Regions from separate parts of the Homo sapiens genome. Here region 2 is linked to region 1. A link means that fine-mapping ties the variant in region 1 to the expression of a gene that starts in the linked region. Tissue or cell type: whole blood. Region 1 holds a variant in brackets; the other region holds the start of a gene. All regions are shown on one strand. Distances are between the middles of the regions.

Evidence for each region. PIP is the estimated chance that this variant, and not a neighbour inherited with it, causes the effect.
Region 2: it holds the start of ITPKB-IT1, and the variant in region 1 is fine-mapped to the expression of ITPKB-IT1 in whole blood (INTERVAL, PIP above 0.99).

Annotation. Positions count from the first base shown.
Region 1 is chr1:226,644,401-226,652,577 of GRCh38, reverse strand. ITPKB (inositol-trisphosphate 3-kinase B) reads left to right here. Exons shown (of 8, transcript NM_002221.4): 3 at 3,807-3,906; 4 at 5,198-5,411. Among named protein-coding and RNA genes, the nearest start is that of ITPKB-IT1, 27 kb to the left of the region's middle. RefSeq lists enhancers at 2,551-2,640, 4,907-5,798, 7,465-8,130 and silencers at 2,436-2,730, 5,919-6,119, 7,890-8,112. The variant T/CAT (reference allele first, on the strand shown) is at 3,216.
Region 2 is chr1:226,671,388-226,679,564 of GRCh38, reverse strand. ITPKB-IT1 (ITPKB intronic transcript 1) reads left to right here and starts at 4,497. Exons shown (of 2, transcript NR_103784.1): 1 at 4,497-4,648. All of the region lies in intron 2 of ITPKB (inositol-trisphosphate 3-kinase B), which reads left to right. RefSeq lists a silencer at 3,366-3,515.

The sequences.
Region 1 (8,177 bases):
GATTTCAGACAGAGAAGAGACAGAGGCTGCTGTGGAGAGCTCACTCTTGAATATCTCCCACAAGGGAGGGCTGGAGGGGCACGGGATAAACCCCTCTGGGTGGGATTCTTCTGGGTTGTCCTCCTTTCTTGCCTTGTTACCTGTCTTATCTGGGGGATGAGGCCTGGAGTCCATTTCTGAGGACTGGGGCTTCCTCCAGCCAGTGCTTGGAGGGAGGGCTGTTAGCCTGTCCGCTCCTGGAAAGCGGCGTGTGCCTGGAGTGGATTTGGTTCCTGAGGCAGATGCTGTGGTCTCCCCGACCATCACAAGGACATTGATTCTCTGGAATCTCCTCCCATCCTTTAGTTCATCTCTGCTCCTAGGGGCTAGGCTGGAGTGGTTGGGGTCACCCTGCAGCCCTCCTTCCCTCCTTCCCCCAGCCTGGACCTGGAAATGGCTTTTTCTGTTTACTGCTTGGCAGTGACATTAGGCACTGCCTGGGTGCTGCTATTTAAAAACCATGGGGAAACCCTGTGTGCTGCTGCTGGCAGAGAGAAAAGAGGTCTCCAGTGCAAGTGCATGGCATTCTCACAAGTGGAATATTCCACGGCCCTCATCCAGGCAGAGCAGCCTTGGGACTGGGGGACTCTCAGGGCCTTGGCCACGTGGGACCTATTTTCATGGTGAAGAAATGGAGGAGGTGTGGGCAGAGGGGAGCCAAGCGGTAAAGGTGCCTGGTTTGGTCAGAGCTCAGCGATGTGAGAGGCTTGTGGATCCTTTGAACTGTCAGAAGACCCCCACCCTGGAGCACCCCCTCCTTTCTAGACCCCTGGTCTTTAGCCTCTGGGAGAGGTCCAAGAACTGGAAGTTTCTTAGCTTCAAATGGCCTTGCAGAGGCTAAGCCACACTGTCTCGCCCAGCATCTGTTCACCTTCCTGGGTCACAGGCTCCCTGCTCACTGTGTCTTGTGGGTCTCTGGAGAGCTGCACCCCAACAGGATGGGCATGACCCTGCCCCAGGCTCCGAGGTCTTTATTGTTCAGAACCTAGGCCAGCAACTCCACCTAGCACAGGACTGACCATTCTTGAAGTAACTTCAGAGACACCTGGGTCCCCTCCTTGAACACAGAGGGCTAAAGACCCTCCCACAGACACCCTGGTACCCACATCTCCTGACAGCTTTATCTCCTGGGAGAATGGGAATCTATGTGTCGCTCTTTTTACAAACAAGGACTAAGAACTTGTTCAAGGTCAGTCATTGAGGAGGAAAAGGGGAGCCGGGACTCGGGCCCAGGTTGGCCTGCCTCAACGCCCCACGCTCTCCCGAGGCCTCGCCTGCTCACCTATCTCCCTCTGTCTGCAGCCCCCATGCCCATAGCAGGTCTGGTTCCCAACCACTCCCAGTTCCAGTCCCCGGGCCTTTGTCCCCACACTCCCGCTGCCAGCTGTAGTCTTCTCTTTCTCTCCACTGAGTCTGGCCCCCAGCTGTCTCTGGTGGGTGCAGCCTCCGTAAGCTCCCTCCTTCTCCACAGTGAGCTGCCTTCTAGGGTCCTGGGACCCTTCCTCCATGCATGCTCATTTGCCTCCTCCTGTATACATAAAATATAAACTGGCACGCTGCAGCTGGGAGAGTAGCCCTCTCTAGTCTTCCTCGGAGGGGCCATTGCTGTTGGGATGAGGGAAGGTCACTTTCCAGGGCCCTAGAGTGTCCATCCATCCAAGGAGCCTGGTATACCAGCTGTCTGTCCCTCACCGGACACAGGAAACTGAGGCCCCAGGAGGGACTGTGAAACAGTGCAATGTGTGTTCTCCCCTGATAGGGACATGGCATGGGTTAGGGCGAGCCCTGGATTGAGACACTCTGGGCTCCCCTCCTCCCACACCACCCCTGAAGCCTGTCAGCCCCTGTCCTCTCTGAGCTCTGCTGCAGGGATGTGACCCACGGGTGGTGACCGGCTGTGCACTCTCCCCCTGGACCCACCGTAATGGCTTCCCCCTGAGCAGGGGCGTCCCCACGAGCCACTGCTGGGCTCATCTTGTGTAATGAGGTTTTTCCATTGTTGCCCTCATGCATTGTGTGCCCTGATTGTTTATGCAGCCTTCTGGGTGCTTAGATAAGAAATGCCTCCGCTGGCTCTAGCCTTCTTTGGCGATCTCCATCAGAAGGATCTAGGAAAAACATCCTTGTCAGTAAAGCCTCGGCCCTTTTGTCACATGGCCTCATGGGGCGCTGCCCTCTCTTAAGAATAGAATTGGTCTTGGCGGTGGGGTGAGAGTTTCTGGGATGGGGATAAGAATTACCAGGTTTAGTAAGGAAGAATTCCTCTCCTTAAATAGATTTTAACTTGAAAACCTGATGACAGAAGCGGCTGAGTCTCAGCAAAGAGAGAAAAAACAAAGGAGGCCGATTTCACCTTGACTTCACCTTGGGGACCCAGCAGCCGCCGCTGACCCCTGAGGGCTGCAGCTGGGCGCTTCGGGGCAAGGAGTGGGAACCACATCTTCAGTGTGTCCCCCTGTCAGGCAGTACCACCCTCATCTCCTCTGCAAGCCACATGGCTTCTGCTCTCCGTGGTTTAGCTGGTCCAGGATCCACTTTCTCAGGAACTCACAATGCTTCTCATTCAGGTTCTCATCGCCCCCCTGAGGACGGGTGTATTTTGGGGACACTTGATCTTCATCTCTGCAGCCTGTTCTTATTAAAGTTCACTTAAGGATATTTTTTCTAAAAATATGTTTTTTTTTTGTTTTTTTGTTTTGTTTTGTTTGTTTTTGCTGGGGAAGAAAAGAATTTTATTAATTTTATTTATTTTCAAGTAGTTGTATAAATGAATGTTTAAATCCCAGCTTCGTCATTTACCTCTCTGAGGCTCAGGCTCCACCAGATGGAAATAGAAAAGAATTGACTTGCATGCTCATTGAGAAAATAAAATAAGATGCTCAATATACCTTAGTTCTCCTTTCTGCCCAAAGGGCCTGCTCTCCCCAAACACACATGCACGCACACACATGCACACGCACACACTCATGCACACATATGTGCATATCACACACGCATGCACACACATGCACACATCACACACATGCACATATCACGCATGCACACACTGATGCACACATATGCACATACATGCACATATCACACATGCACACACACGCACACATACGCACACACTCATGCACATATCACACATGCACACACACTCATGCACACATGCACACAATCACATGCACACA[T/CAT]GCACATATATCACATATGCACACATACGCACACACTCATGCACACATATGCACACACACATGCACACACACGCACACACACATGCACACTCCCAGTCCTGGCTGTTTTCACTGAAGAAACATCCTGAGAGGGCGGAGCGCGGTGCAGAGGAGAGAGCTGTGGGCTTGCTCCCTCCTGTGTGACCTGAAGCCATCGGTGCAGGTTCTGTTCTGAGGAATTTCTTTAAAGTCTCTCTTCAAACCACTCGCAGGCAAGAGGTGCCTCTGGTGCCTCCGCATCTACGAATTGAATATGAACTAATGTGGTGCGGCTGGGTGGTTGTGTCCTCTCCAGCCTTCCTTGGAGGGGTCGTTGCTCTTGGGACAGGGGAGTTCCCCTGAGCATTTTGCTCAGGCTGTTTGTTAAATGGGGTAAAGCCACCTCCCACCATGTGCCGCATAGGTGATGGTGGTGGCAAGGTCCTCAGAGCCCGTCAAGGGCCCTTCCCATCTTGTGGCCACAGGCAATGAGGGCCTTTGCTTTGAATTTGTCCTAACCAGAAATTAGTGGTTGTCTTTCTAATGTAGAGCTTTTTGTTTGTTTGTTTCTAGAGCAAATCATGGAGGAAGATAAAAAACATGGTGCACTGGTCTCCCTTCGTCATGTCCTTCAAGAAGAAGTACCCCTGGATCCAGCTGGCAGGACACGCAGGTAGACACAGCTCTCCCAGACTTTCCCAGCATGGTGCTCAGCCCTCTGGGGAGGTGCCCTGGACGCTGCATTCTGGGGATCAAAGCTCCAGAGCAAGTTCCCTCCAAGACTTTCTAGTCTGAAATCACAGCCACACTTGCAGGCTGCGGCCTTACCAATGCCTTGTAAATGCCATAGACAACGGACCTCTCTGGAGTCTGTGTTACCCCATCCTCCAAAACATGCATCCTCCCCTCCCTCGGTCTCTGGCTCTTATCTCTGTCTCTTCCAGTCTCTTTCTTTCTGTCTCTCTTCCCGTTGTATTCAATAAGACAGATGAAGCCATCAGTCTTTATAGCTTACCTGCCATTTGTCACCCTGGACAAAGAGGCAAAGCTAACCCCTTCATTGAGCACCTACTGTGTGCCTAAATTGCCATGGTCCTGGGGGTTGCGGCATTAATGGAGATGTAGTTTCTGCCCTGAGGGAGCCTGCAGCTGGTGGAAGATGCGGCCAAGCCACCCCATAACTGCAGGGCGGTGTGCGGTGTTGGGAGGAAGGTGGCTAGGAGCTGAGTCCAGGCAGTGCCGGGGAGAAGGGACATCTGGAGCCGAGGCCCCAGAGCCATCTAGCCCACATGTAGGACCCTCTGGAAGCACTGTCATCTGGAGACATGTCAGGGGCTGCCTGTGGACTTGGCCTTCGTGACTTCACCAGCCTCCTCAGGCCAGCACAAGGTCCCGCATTTCGCTTACCTCGTTGGCCACACTGGCCCAACTCAAGGCACATGGATGGACAGCCTGTGTGAATACTTACTTGGTCTGGCTCAGAAGAAGTGCCACCCAGGTGGGCTGAGCCTTAGGCCCCCCAGCTTCTCAGCCTGCTGTATCTCCCCACCTTGGCTCTGAATCCTGTCCAATCAGGGTTTCTCTACTGAGGCCAGGAGACACCTTCGTTGCCGAGAAGCAGGGCTGATGATGGAGGTGAGGATGAAAATAGCAACACTAAGGAATGACTGGGTCGTGGCACCTCAGTCTCTCACCTAGCTCTGTACCCTTCCAGCAGGGAACACTGGTGAGGAGGAGTCTGGAGTCAAGGAAGCTGGGGAACCAGCTCAGAATTACAGTTAGTGAGTGGGGACTAGGTCTTGAACCCACTCCCCTTAAGGTGCTCAGTCCATAGCAGGGACATAGACACACCTTCAGCCCCAGGCTTAGCCATCCCCAGGGAGGCCCAGACCCTGTGCTGGGGAGGGTGCCTCTGCCAGCTACCTGCAGCCGGAGACCAGGAACCTTCTACACTTGCTCTCCAGGGAGTTTCAAGGCAGCTGCCAATGGCAGGATCCTGAAGAAGCACTGTGAGTCAGAGCAGCGCTGCCTGGACCGGCTGATGGTGGATGTGCTGAGGCCCTTCGTACCTGCCTACCATGGGGATGTGGTGAAGGACGGGGAGCGCTACAACCAGATGGACGACCTGCTGGCCGACTTCGACTCGCCCTGTGTGATGGACTGCAAGATGGGAATCAGGTGAGCCAGGCTTCTCGCAGCCCACATGCCTGCCTCAGTGCAAGCCACATGGCAGGTGCACAGCGTGGCACTCAGGGCTTCCCGGAGGCCTCACAGGTGCAAGGGCAGGCTGAGGAGGCTGTTGGACCAATTAGAGCCTCCCCATCCCCAGGCATCTCCCATTATTTGCAGAGGGTTCCGGGACCTGGGCTTTGCCCATGATGGCCCCTTTCCTTCTCCAGTGAGCAGAAGCCAGGGGCTGGCGGAACCAGAAAAAGGGCACCGGCTGGGTTCTGAGGCCCCCTAGAGAGAAGGAAGAGAGAGCTGCCCTTGGTTCAGGTGGGATCGCTGGGGGTGCGGGGAGCCACCAGGTAGGGAGGTCGCAGGATGGTGACTTCCTGCTGTGTGAGCTGCAGGGGAGATGGGAATCGAGGTCTTTCCATTTCCCCAGCCCTGGTGAGTGGGAAGAGAGAGTGGCTAGTAGAACATGCTGGTTTCCCAAAAAAGACCTGTATCTGCCTAAAAGGAGGAGGAAGCCCCTGACGGAACTCAAGAAACCCACATGGCAGGTCACCGCAGGGCCCCAGGTGAGCCCGGAGCAGTCACTGGGCCTGTGTGCAGGACTGGCTCCCACCCCCAGGTTCCTGACAGGGGCTCAGGCTCACCCTGACACCTGCCCAGGGGATAAGCCTGGAGAGGACTCCAGGGAAGAGGAGAGAGGAAGAGGGGGCTTGAGGAGGCAGGGCAGAGAGCAGACAGGGATGCCTGAGGCCGGCTGCTGTGATCTCGGGGCTCAGTTTTAGGCAGCCGGGTTTTCTCATTACCTCTCAAACTGCTGCCCTTCCACCCTGAGTCATCCACAGCACGGCTCCTTCTCCCCTGTGCAGGCTTGGTGAACCTCCCTAAGGCTGTCGGCCCCCATGGTGTCCAGCGTGCGGTGCTCATGTTGTGGGGCTGGCCCTCACTGCAGCACCCGGGCTGGACGGCCAGATGCCAAGCCCCCCCATGCTTCCTTGCAGGGCTGTCTGGGAGGCCAGGCACGGAGACTCAGAGCTCAGAGCAGAAGGCTGTGTCCACTGTGACTGGTTTAACCGGATTATTTCTCATAAGAGCAGATTGAGAAAGAGGGGTGTGTGTGTGAGAGAGAGAGAGACAGAGACAGAGGCCAGGAGAGAAGAGAGCTAAGCCAGCCAGCATTTCTTTCCTTCTTTCCTTTCTTCTCTCTCCTCCTGGGAGTTCTGTCCTAAAATCACACCCTGCCACTGACTGTTGTGTTCTCTCGCCATCACTCACAGGGAAAGAATGGGGGATGGAGAAGCACAGGCCCCACTGTTTGCTCTTGAGCCATCCCTGGCCACCTCCCTCCCACCATCCAAGTTCCTTACTATCTTTAGCCCACAGGGACCTGGGATAGGGCAGGGAGGAGAAAGAACATGCCCCCAGCCAGCCCGAGGCCTTTGCTTTTCCCGAGTCTGATTTCTGACCCAGGATGGCATCCACTGGTGCACCAGAATGTGTCCTCTCAGGGGAGGCCCAGCCCTTCCTTCCAACCCAGACAGCAGCAGGACTTCGCAGGTGACCACATGGAGAATAATCCAAGTGGTGTCCACTCAGACCTGGCCAAAAAAGTACGGCCTGTGTGAAGAACACTGGCTGGGCATTTCTGGAAGTCGGCTGTCCCAAAGACACAGCCAGCCAAGCACAGGGCCAGGCTGCCCCAGAACCTGCCTGCTCCTGCTGGGGACAGGAGCCCCGCTTCCTGCCCCAGGGCTGCCCCCACCCAGCCGCTTGACTTCCGCAGCTTCTCTCTGATTGCACCCTAGTGCTCTCAAGAGAGATCTAGAGTGACCGTGGCTGGTACCCATGTAACCCATCTTGGCAGGCAGAGGGAAGAGGATGAGAGAGGAGTATGTGTGGAGGGGAAGAGGAAGGTCTCCCCAGAAGCAGGGTGCACCCAGCCCGATCTTTCCTGCACACAAATCCTAAGGACCCTTCTTGTTCCAAGGGCTATGCTAGATGCTTCCATTATTTATCCCATTGCGTTCTCACCGCCATTCTGGGAGATGGGTCATGTTCCAGTGTAAGCAGGAGGGTTCTGTCACCAGGAGGTTCAGTGACTCATCAGGGCCACCCAGCCAGGCAGCAGCTTGGTGCAGTTCTGCACCAGGCTTGCTTGACTGCAAATCAGGCCCCCAGCTGCAGCCCAGCCCTTCCCAAGGGGGCTGTGTGGGACCCAGCTTCCATGGCATTTCCCTGGGGTGCCAGGCTAGTTCCATTTGGGCCATGGACTGTGCCTTCCCCCAAATGCGTTCATCCAGAACCCTTGGCTGCAGGGCCTCTCCCAAGACTGGCTGCTCATGGTCACCTCTAGAATGTGGCCTTTCCATGACAGGGTGAGGAGGCTGGAGCCCAGGGTTACCTCACATGCTGAGTCCCAGGGCAAGAGAGTTTGAGACATGTCACAGAGAAAGGGAAGGGCCGGTCACCAAACAATGCTGGGCATGGCGGGGGCAGAAGGGTGGCACTAAGGAGAATGTGATGCAGTTGCTGGTGGCGTCTGCACGTCGGGGCTTCTTGGGACTCTGGCTCCCGCCGACATGTGCTCAGTGGCTCTGGGGCATGCTCTGAGATTTGTGACTTGTCCTGGAGAGTCAACACTGTCTTCCTGACATTGGGACCAGGGGCCTGGGGAGTGCAGGTGAGAGCCCGCCCCTAGCACCTAGGAGCTCTGGGTGGCTTTCGCCTGCCACCTGTTGGCTCCCTGGGCTGGCCTGTCTCAAAGGAGCA
Region 2 (8,177 bases), 27 kb before region 1:
CTTAGGTTAGTCCCCACAACTCAGCTTTTTTGAGACTATCCCAAGAACACAGCATTTCAGAGCCAGATAGTATTTTTGAGTTTATGTGGTTAATCTTTCCACTTTCTGGACTGAGACAGAAGTGACACAACTTTCTTGGGGTTTCCAAATTAGCTGCAGAGCTGGAACCAGAAGAACTCAAAGAGTTCTGCTTCTGAAGTCAGGGTCCTCCCAAAACTCCAGGAGCATGGAATATCAGAGTTCACTTTTAGGTCAGAGATTTTAAATAAGATCAAAAGCAGAAAAGGGAAGAGGGGAGACAGGGAGCCACATCTGAAAAGGGGCAATTTTCTTTGGAATTTTGGTACATTTTAATTCCTTTTTACAGATGGAAACAAAGTGACATTTTTAAGAATTCTGAATAGACGCTGTCAGCCATTGGAACAAAACACCTGCAGGAAGAGATACTGGGAGGCAGGGAGCTCTATCTTAGAGAGGCACCCAGTTCTTTGGGATATGAGCGCCAGTCTCTGCACAAGTTGACCCCAGGGACTCCCCTAGCCTGAGTGCTGGCGTCAGTGCTTCCCCGCAGGCCTGCCTTCTAGGCAACCATGTGGTCTCTTCCTCATCAGTAGCCCTCCGCAGAGGCGTGCTCCCTGAGATGCCCCTCTTTCTGACATCCACTCTGGGCCTGTGGTTCTCTTGCTGGGAGTATTGATACCTCTATTGTCACTTCCTGGGAGGCCTTCTCTTCACACAGGAAACCTCCTTCCTGACAGCAGAGAGCGGCCTAGAATAAGCCTATCATGAACACCGTTGTCAAGACCACGTAAAAAGCTCACCAAAGCCTTATCCCAGTCCTGGCTCCTTTTGGAATAGATAATTCTCCCTTTTTCTCTCTGGCCAGGACTGATAATGATAATAATAATGAACACTTAGGTAGTGTTTAGTGCTAGACACTTTACATTTTAATCTACACAGTGTCCCAAATTCATTTCACAGGTGAGGAAACCAATGGGGCACAGATAAGCTTGCCTGAAGTCACAGCTATGAAGAACAGAGCCAGAATTCACACTCAGCCTGGCTCCAGAGACCATGTTCCTAACCACTAGACTAGACTAATCAGCCTGCTCCAGGGGCTCGGCCTCTGCCCTCAGTGGCAGCACTCTATTTGAGGTCTGCAGCCATCTGCAGGGGATTTGATTTTCCTCCCCCTTTAGGGAAAGCAAGTCTGGGGTCACTGTGGCTCCTTTGCCCTCTCCTAAGTTTGCATGGCAGCCAGTTTTCATTTTGTGTCGTTTTATTTTCCATAGGCCACATTTATCATATTTAATAACCAAATGTTATTTGGTTATTGGTTATTTTGTAAAATTCTTCACATGAATAACATTAGAAAAATAGTCTTTGTTAGCGTCCATGTCCTGGTTTGGTATTTGGACAAATTGTGGAGGTGTGGCCAGAGAGTATATTCTGGAGTTGGACAAATCTATCCAAATCTAGACTCTACTATTGACTGGCAACATGTCTTTCTTTTTTTTAATTCCTTCGTTTCATGGTTTTCAATGTATTCAAGTAATGCCTGTACAAGCTTGATATAGCACGTTAAATAATGCACGCGAAATACCTGTACAAGTGAAATAATACAAGATGCATGAAGGTGAAGCTCCTCGTCTCCTCCTTCAGTCCTGTCCCTCTCAATCAGCATTAGCCACGTTCTCCAGGGCAGCCTGCTGAGCCTCCACATGGTTGTTTTCCTGCCTATAACAGGAGGCGAACGCCCTGTGATGTATGTAATGGGTGCTCTTTCAGTGGTAGTCATTGTTATGAGGAGGGAACACATGTGCATTAGGGCTGCAGTAAGTTGCATTTTTGCCATGGGAAGAGAAATTCTCCACCTTTCCCGTCAGTTTCTCTTTGCTTCTCCATCTTGCAGCCTCTGGCACAGCCCAGAGTCCAGTGGTATCCGGCAGAAGCAGTGCTGTGCAGCTCTGAGCTGGGCCCTTAAGGGGAAGAGGGAGTACCTCCAGCAATATTCAGGGTGGATGTGGGTTCCAGGGCTTCTGATCCTGGGGCTGGGCTTGTCTGAGATTCACAGGAGGTTAGAGAACTAAGGAGGAAGGGGAGAAGGCTTTAACCCACCCCTCTGCTGTCTCTCTCTGGAGGAAACCTCAGGCAGCTCTGTGTACTTCCCCCTCTGCACACACACCTCTTCCTGCCTTCTCTACCCTGACACCAAGGTCTCTCCCCAGCCCTGGTGGCATCGTGCCTGGGTTGCTAATAATAGAGAAGGGTGAATCTGCCAGGCAGTGAATCAGAAGGCTGTCCCAGCTCTGTTCTTCTGCCCTGATCCTGGCAAATTCTTGTGGGCTGATTCGGTAAATATCCTTGTGAGCAGAATAAGTCTTTGTGTGTTCTGGAAACTCCTGCTGTCCCTGGGGGTAACACCCTCTTGGAAGGATGATGGGGATGCCTTTGGCCTCAAGATCTTAGGACGGCGTTTCAAATTGCTCCAGGCTTCCAAGCTAGCCTGGGCTCTGGGAGGAGGGTTTGCAGGTTTGGAGAAGGAGCTGCTTCCCAGGTGCTCAGGGGATGGAAGTGAGAATAGGGAGGGTGTGGAGGGTACAAAGAGACTGTTTAGTTCTTGCGTAAAAGACAACACAATATGGTCCTTCCAGTTCTTTTTAGAGCTCAAAAGGTGAAATAAGAATAAAGAACAGCGATCTGCAGTTTTCCTATTATCCAAAAGCCTACTACCCAATTCAGTGGATTGTTTTGGCAACTTGCTTGGATAAACTTATTTAGAAATTATTTCAGAATTCCTCCAGGCAGTTACCCTACGTCCTTTTTAAGTCAAGGTGTGGTATAAGTCCATTAACGAATTAAAATACTTCCAGATTTCTGTGTTATTCTCAAGGCACTTTTGCTAGATAACAATACCTCACACTTGGACGGTGTTTTGTGGTTTGCAAAGCACTTTCACATCTGTTTTCTCACTTGGTTGCCATAATAACCCTGGGAGCCGGGAAGGGCATGTCTTGTTATTATCCCTATTTTGCAGATGAGGAAGCCAAGGTTTTTAGAAGGTTGGGTGGCCTAGTCAAGGTCACACCGGTAGGGGAATTGGGGGGATGGAGGAAACTAGAGCTGTTTTTCCTTAACCATCTTGCCTCTCACTGAGATGAAACAGCAGGATGGTTCCTGGGACCCAGGATCCCTTTGAACGCTTGGATTAAAATAATTTATGAGTTCTTTGTGAGTGTGTGTGGACCTGCTGGTAGTGGCTTTTCTTCATTAGAATTTGCATGCAAGATTGACACTAAGATGGCTGACTTTCACCATCCCAAACCAACCCTGTTTTTGCACCGTGCTGTAGTGGTATGAATTACCTTGCAGGTAATTGTGGCTTAGGTGATGGTACACAAAAGGCATCATACAGCAGCCAGATGTTCATTTTACTAAATGGAAAATATGACTCAGAACACGGGCCAATCTGAGCCTCCAAGCAGGCAAATTAGCCATTGAGGATGAAGTCTTCACCTCTGGAGAGGAGAGAATGTGGGAGCACAGAGCCCAGAGTCAAATGATTTGGTTGAGATCCCCCCACTTTGGTTATTTAGACTTGCTTATACTCCTCTGACCAGACTATGGGATCTTCTACAGAAATTCTACAGAAGTGTGGGCAGAATTACAAGTAAGGTGGGTTGAGGAAGTGCACAGGTGGAAGTGTAGCCGAGAGGATGCGTTTGAGGAGCAAGAGGCTGGGACTCAAGAAGGCTTTATGCAGACTCGAATCTTACATTGATAACAAGCATTTGCGTAGCACATACGAGTTTCATCCTATGAAGGATTCCATAGGATTCTCACAGCAGCCCAAGGATGTGAGCAGAGCAGTAAACAATATCCCTGTTTTATAGAGGAAGTAGAAATCGAGAAGCAGGAAGGTTGGGTAATTTGCCCAAAGTTCCACCACTAGTAAATCGCAGAACTGGGACTAAAGCCCAGGTCTTCTGACCCTCACTGGGCCCAGCGTTCTTTCCAATATGTCATCCTGCCATTTTCCCCTTCCTTCCTCCTCCCCACAGCTCCTTGCAAGTTCAGCCTGCTGGAGGTAAGGGAAGTGATCATGAGAGTTTTTCCAGTGCTGAGACGTTCTGGAAAAAACATGGACCTGTATCTGTGTCCTGATCTGTGCTTCGTGATTGGACTGTCTTGACACTCGTCTCAGGACTCTGGGGAGTGCTTGTGCAAGTGTTTCCCAGTGTGGCCGGCTTCTTGAACGCTGCTAATGGAAAGTTGTAAGAGTTCTATTTTCCTGTTTCAAGCGAGCGTTTCCCCCTTGGGGTTATAGCAACCACTTCCTCCTCAGCACCCGGTGGGTCGTGGTAAACACCAGTTACAGCAGAGTATCCCCTTCTGACAACCTCATTGGTTCCTTTTTTTTTTTTTTTTTTTTTTTTTGCCTGTAAGCACATACACACAGAGTTCTGAAGGCTAGGTCTCCTTTCCTTCTGGTTTAGAGTTTTCAGAGTACCCTGCTGTGGCCTTGGAAACAGAAAACCCACACAGAGGTCAAACGCAGTTCTCGTGGAGTCACCTTGTCATCCTGCTTTGTTTTGGAAGGAACTGGGTCGGAGGCAGCACAGTAGGACTACAGCATCTTTAACCCTTGGTAGGATGGCTGGATCCGCTGAACGCTTGTGGGTAAACAGGAAGCTCACAGCCTCAGTGGATCATTAAGGGTGATACAGAATAGACACGAAAATCTTAAGTGGGATGGGAGCAGAGCAGGACTTGGTGGGTAGATAGTGAGGAAAAGGAGGCAAATAGGGATGGTGAAGAAATCGAAAGGGAATGGGGGATACAAGGAAAGGGTCAGGAAAGGGTGAGTAAAAGGTTTAAAGAGAGGTGCTAATTTTAGATACTTAAAAGTATTTTAAGTATCTAAAACTTGTGGCTGGGTGTGGTGGCTCACTCCTTTAATCCCAGCACTTTGGGAGGCCAAGGCGGGCAGATCACCTGAGGTCAGAAGTTCGAGACCAGCCTGGCCAACATAGTGAAACCCCGTCTCTAACTAAAAATACAAAAATTAGGCCAGGCACAGTGGCTCACGCCTGTAATTCCAGCACTATGGGAGGCTGAGGTGGGTGGATCACGAGGTCAGGAGTTCAAAACTAGCCTGGCCAAGATGGTGAAACCCCATCTCTACTAAAACTACAAAAATCAGCCAAGTGTGGTGGCAGGTGCCTGTAATCCCAGCTACTCGGAGGCTGAGGCAGGAGATTGGTTTGAACCTGGGAGTTGGAGGTTGCAGTGAGCCGAGATGGTGCCACTGCCCTCCAGCCTGGGCAACAGTGAGACTCTGTCTCAAAAAAAAATGTGTATATATAAATACTTAAAAAATATTTGTAATTGCTGGTTTGGGGTTACTAGAATCTCTTCTGAATCTGTCTCAGTTTTTCTTACAGCTTTTAAAATCCATGGAACTCTATCACCAGGAGATGATTGTGGTATGGAGCTGATCACCCCGGAGTTAGTGGGGTGGCAACTGAGATCGGGGGGAAATGGAGCAGTTTGAGGATATATGGGCCGTGAAAACCTCCCAGCTCTGCCCCCAGCCATGCCATGAAAGTCATGGGGAAGAAAGGCCCCCATTTGTGTGTTTGTGTTATTAAATAGAACAGTAACAGAGCAGGTCTCTGAGCCTGCCTGGCAGAAATCTTTCTGTAGCAGGAGTGTCCTGCAACTCTCTGGTGGATTTGCAAAACAGTACAGATAGAAAAACTTAAATGGGAAACAAGCTTGTCTTGTCCTACTTTGTGGAGATAGATAATAAAGCCGAAAGGCCAAGAAGTGTAAATATATAGCATATATCTAATGTATATGGTATATGTACATATCAATCTATAGCTATGCAATATCTACACTATTTATCTATGTTTATACGATGACTCTAGGCTTCAGAAGACCTGTCAAAGATTTCCATACATCTAGAGAATTTAGAAGGATCCCTTTATAGGTGAGAGTTGAGACTTTTTGGCTGCAGGTTGGGATTTGGTGGACTAGTTCCTGGTACCACCACCTAGTTGCCGTGATTATCTTTAGACTAACCAAGGCCCTTGTGTTAGCCTTCCGTAAATCATCCCCACCCCTAAGCAAGACAGCACCTATACCTTCACAGTTTCTCCAGTTCATCCCTGTTTTATTTTATTTATTGTTTTTTGAGACAGGGTCATGCTCTGTCACCCAGGCTGGAGTGCAGTGGCACGAACATGGCAGCCTCTACCCCTGTGTTCAAGCAATCCTCCTGCCTCAGCCTCCCGAGTAGCTGGGACCACAGGTGCGCGCCACCACACCTGGCTAATTTTTGTGTTTTTTATAGAGACAAGGGGTCTCACCATGTTGCCCAGGCTGGTCTTGAACTCCTGGCCTCAAGCAGTCCTCCTGCCTCAGCCTCCCAAAGTGTTGGGATTACAGGCATGAGCTACTGCATCCGGCCCATCCCTGTTTAAATGGGAATATCCAGAAGATTGTCCTTGTCATACACTCGGTGCATTTTAGAGTGTCTTCACCACTTGTCAGAAACAGGATTCTGGTTGGGAAGGGCCATCATTCACAGTGTGGCAGGTTTTTGCTTTGTTAATTACTGGAATTGGGGTACAGAAGCCAAATGCAGGTTCTCCACCTGGGACCTTCTTCCTGTTTGTCTGCCCACTTCACACCTGTCTTAGCAGCTGCAGCCTGAAATAGTGAGATGGCTACATTGCCTGATCAAATCTGGGATTTATGTAGTGATAACACCTCCCAGGAGATAGATTTCTTCGCCCTACCCCAGTGCTTCCCACACATGCCCATGGACCAGCTCTTTATCTCTGGCATGAAGATTCCTCCCACTTCCCTGTTGCTGAGATCCTTAGGCCTTTAGAGGGCAATTCTTTCAGCAGGGATTGCAGCTCCAGGTTAGAGTGGGAGTGAGAAGAAGCCATATGCCTCACACCGAAAGACAGCCGTGGTCTTGTCGACCTAATATCTGAGCCAAGGTGGAGGACAGCTGCCCAGGACACACTTCCAAGTTGCCTTGGGGAGTGCTCTGTTTGGCCTTTGTTACAAGCAGGTTTTCAAAGGCAAAAGGAACAAGGAAGTGGGCTGATACAAAGTTGTTTGACAGGAATCCTCCCTGGTTTACAGAGATAACATTGGATAGTGATTGCTCTACACTGTTGAACTATGGAGTACGAGTGATGGTGTCAAGCATATGTCATTTTATGGCTACTTAGCATCAGTTAGTCTTGAGCCCACATAGCAAGTGGCTTCAAGAGGTGATTATTTAGCTCAGGCGGGGAGTGAGACGTGATCGCTGTCACACGCTGTCACATTTCGGTGCCTCTCTGGGTTTGATAATTAAAGGGGGCTTGGATTCTCAGATAAAAAATTTTTATTTCTCAGTCTAAAATGGAGAGTTTTAAAAAAATCCATCTTCCTCTCTCACTTGGACAATTACAGCAGCTTCAAAATGGATCTTTCTTGTTTTCACCCTTTCTCGCCTGCTTTCTGTTCCCCAGGTGTACACACAGAAGCAGCGTGAGCCTTTTAGAACATAAGCCAGACTATGACACTCCTCACTCAAAACCCTCCAGCAGCTTCCTATCTCACTGACATAAAATCCGAAGTCCTAAGAACAGCCTAAAAAACTCTGCAAGAACTGACCTCATATGTGATATATTCTCCTCTTTGTTTACTCTGTTCCAGCCACTTTGCTGTTCCTGCTGGCCTTTGAAGCTGCCCACACACCTGTCTCAAAGCCTGTGCACTTGACCGCTCCCTCTGTCTGCAGTGCCATACCCTCTGCCTGTGTATGGCTCAGCCCCTCACTTCCTGCAGAAAGACCATGGCCAACTAAGCCAGCACACCCCTCTCCCCGCCTCCCTGGGGTTCTCCCTTTTCCCCTACCTGGCTTTATTTATCTTCAGGATGCTCATAGCTGCCTGATGCAATATGTCTTTATTTGTTTATCATCTGCCTGTCCCCACTTAGAATGTAAGCTGCTTTAAGGATAGGGACTTCGTTGTGTTCACTGCTAAATCACCTGCGGCTAGAACAGTGGCACATCTGTAAATATTTGTCCAACAGTGAATGCATGTGTGCATGCATGCGTGAATCCATTAGCAACAGCATTTATTGGGTTCTTTTACTTGGCATCA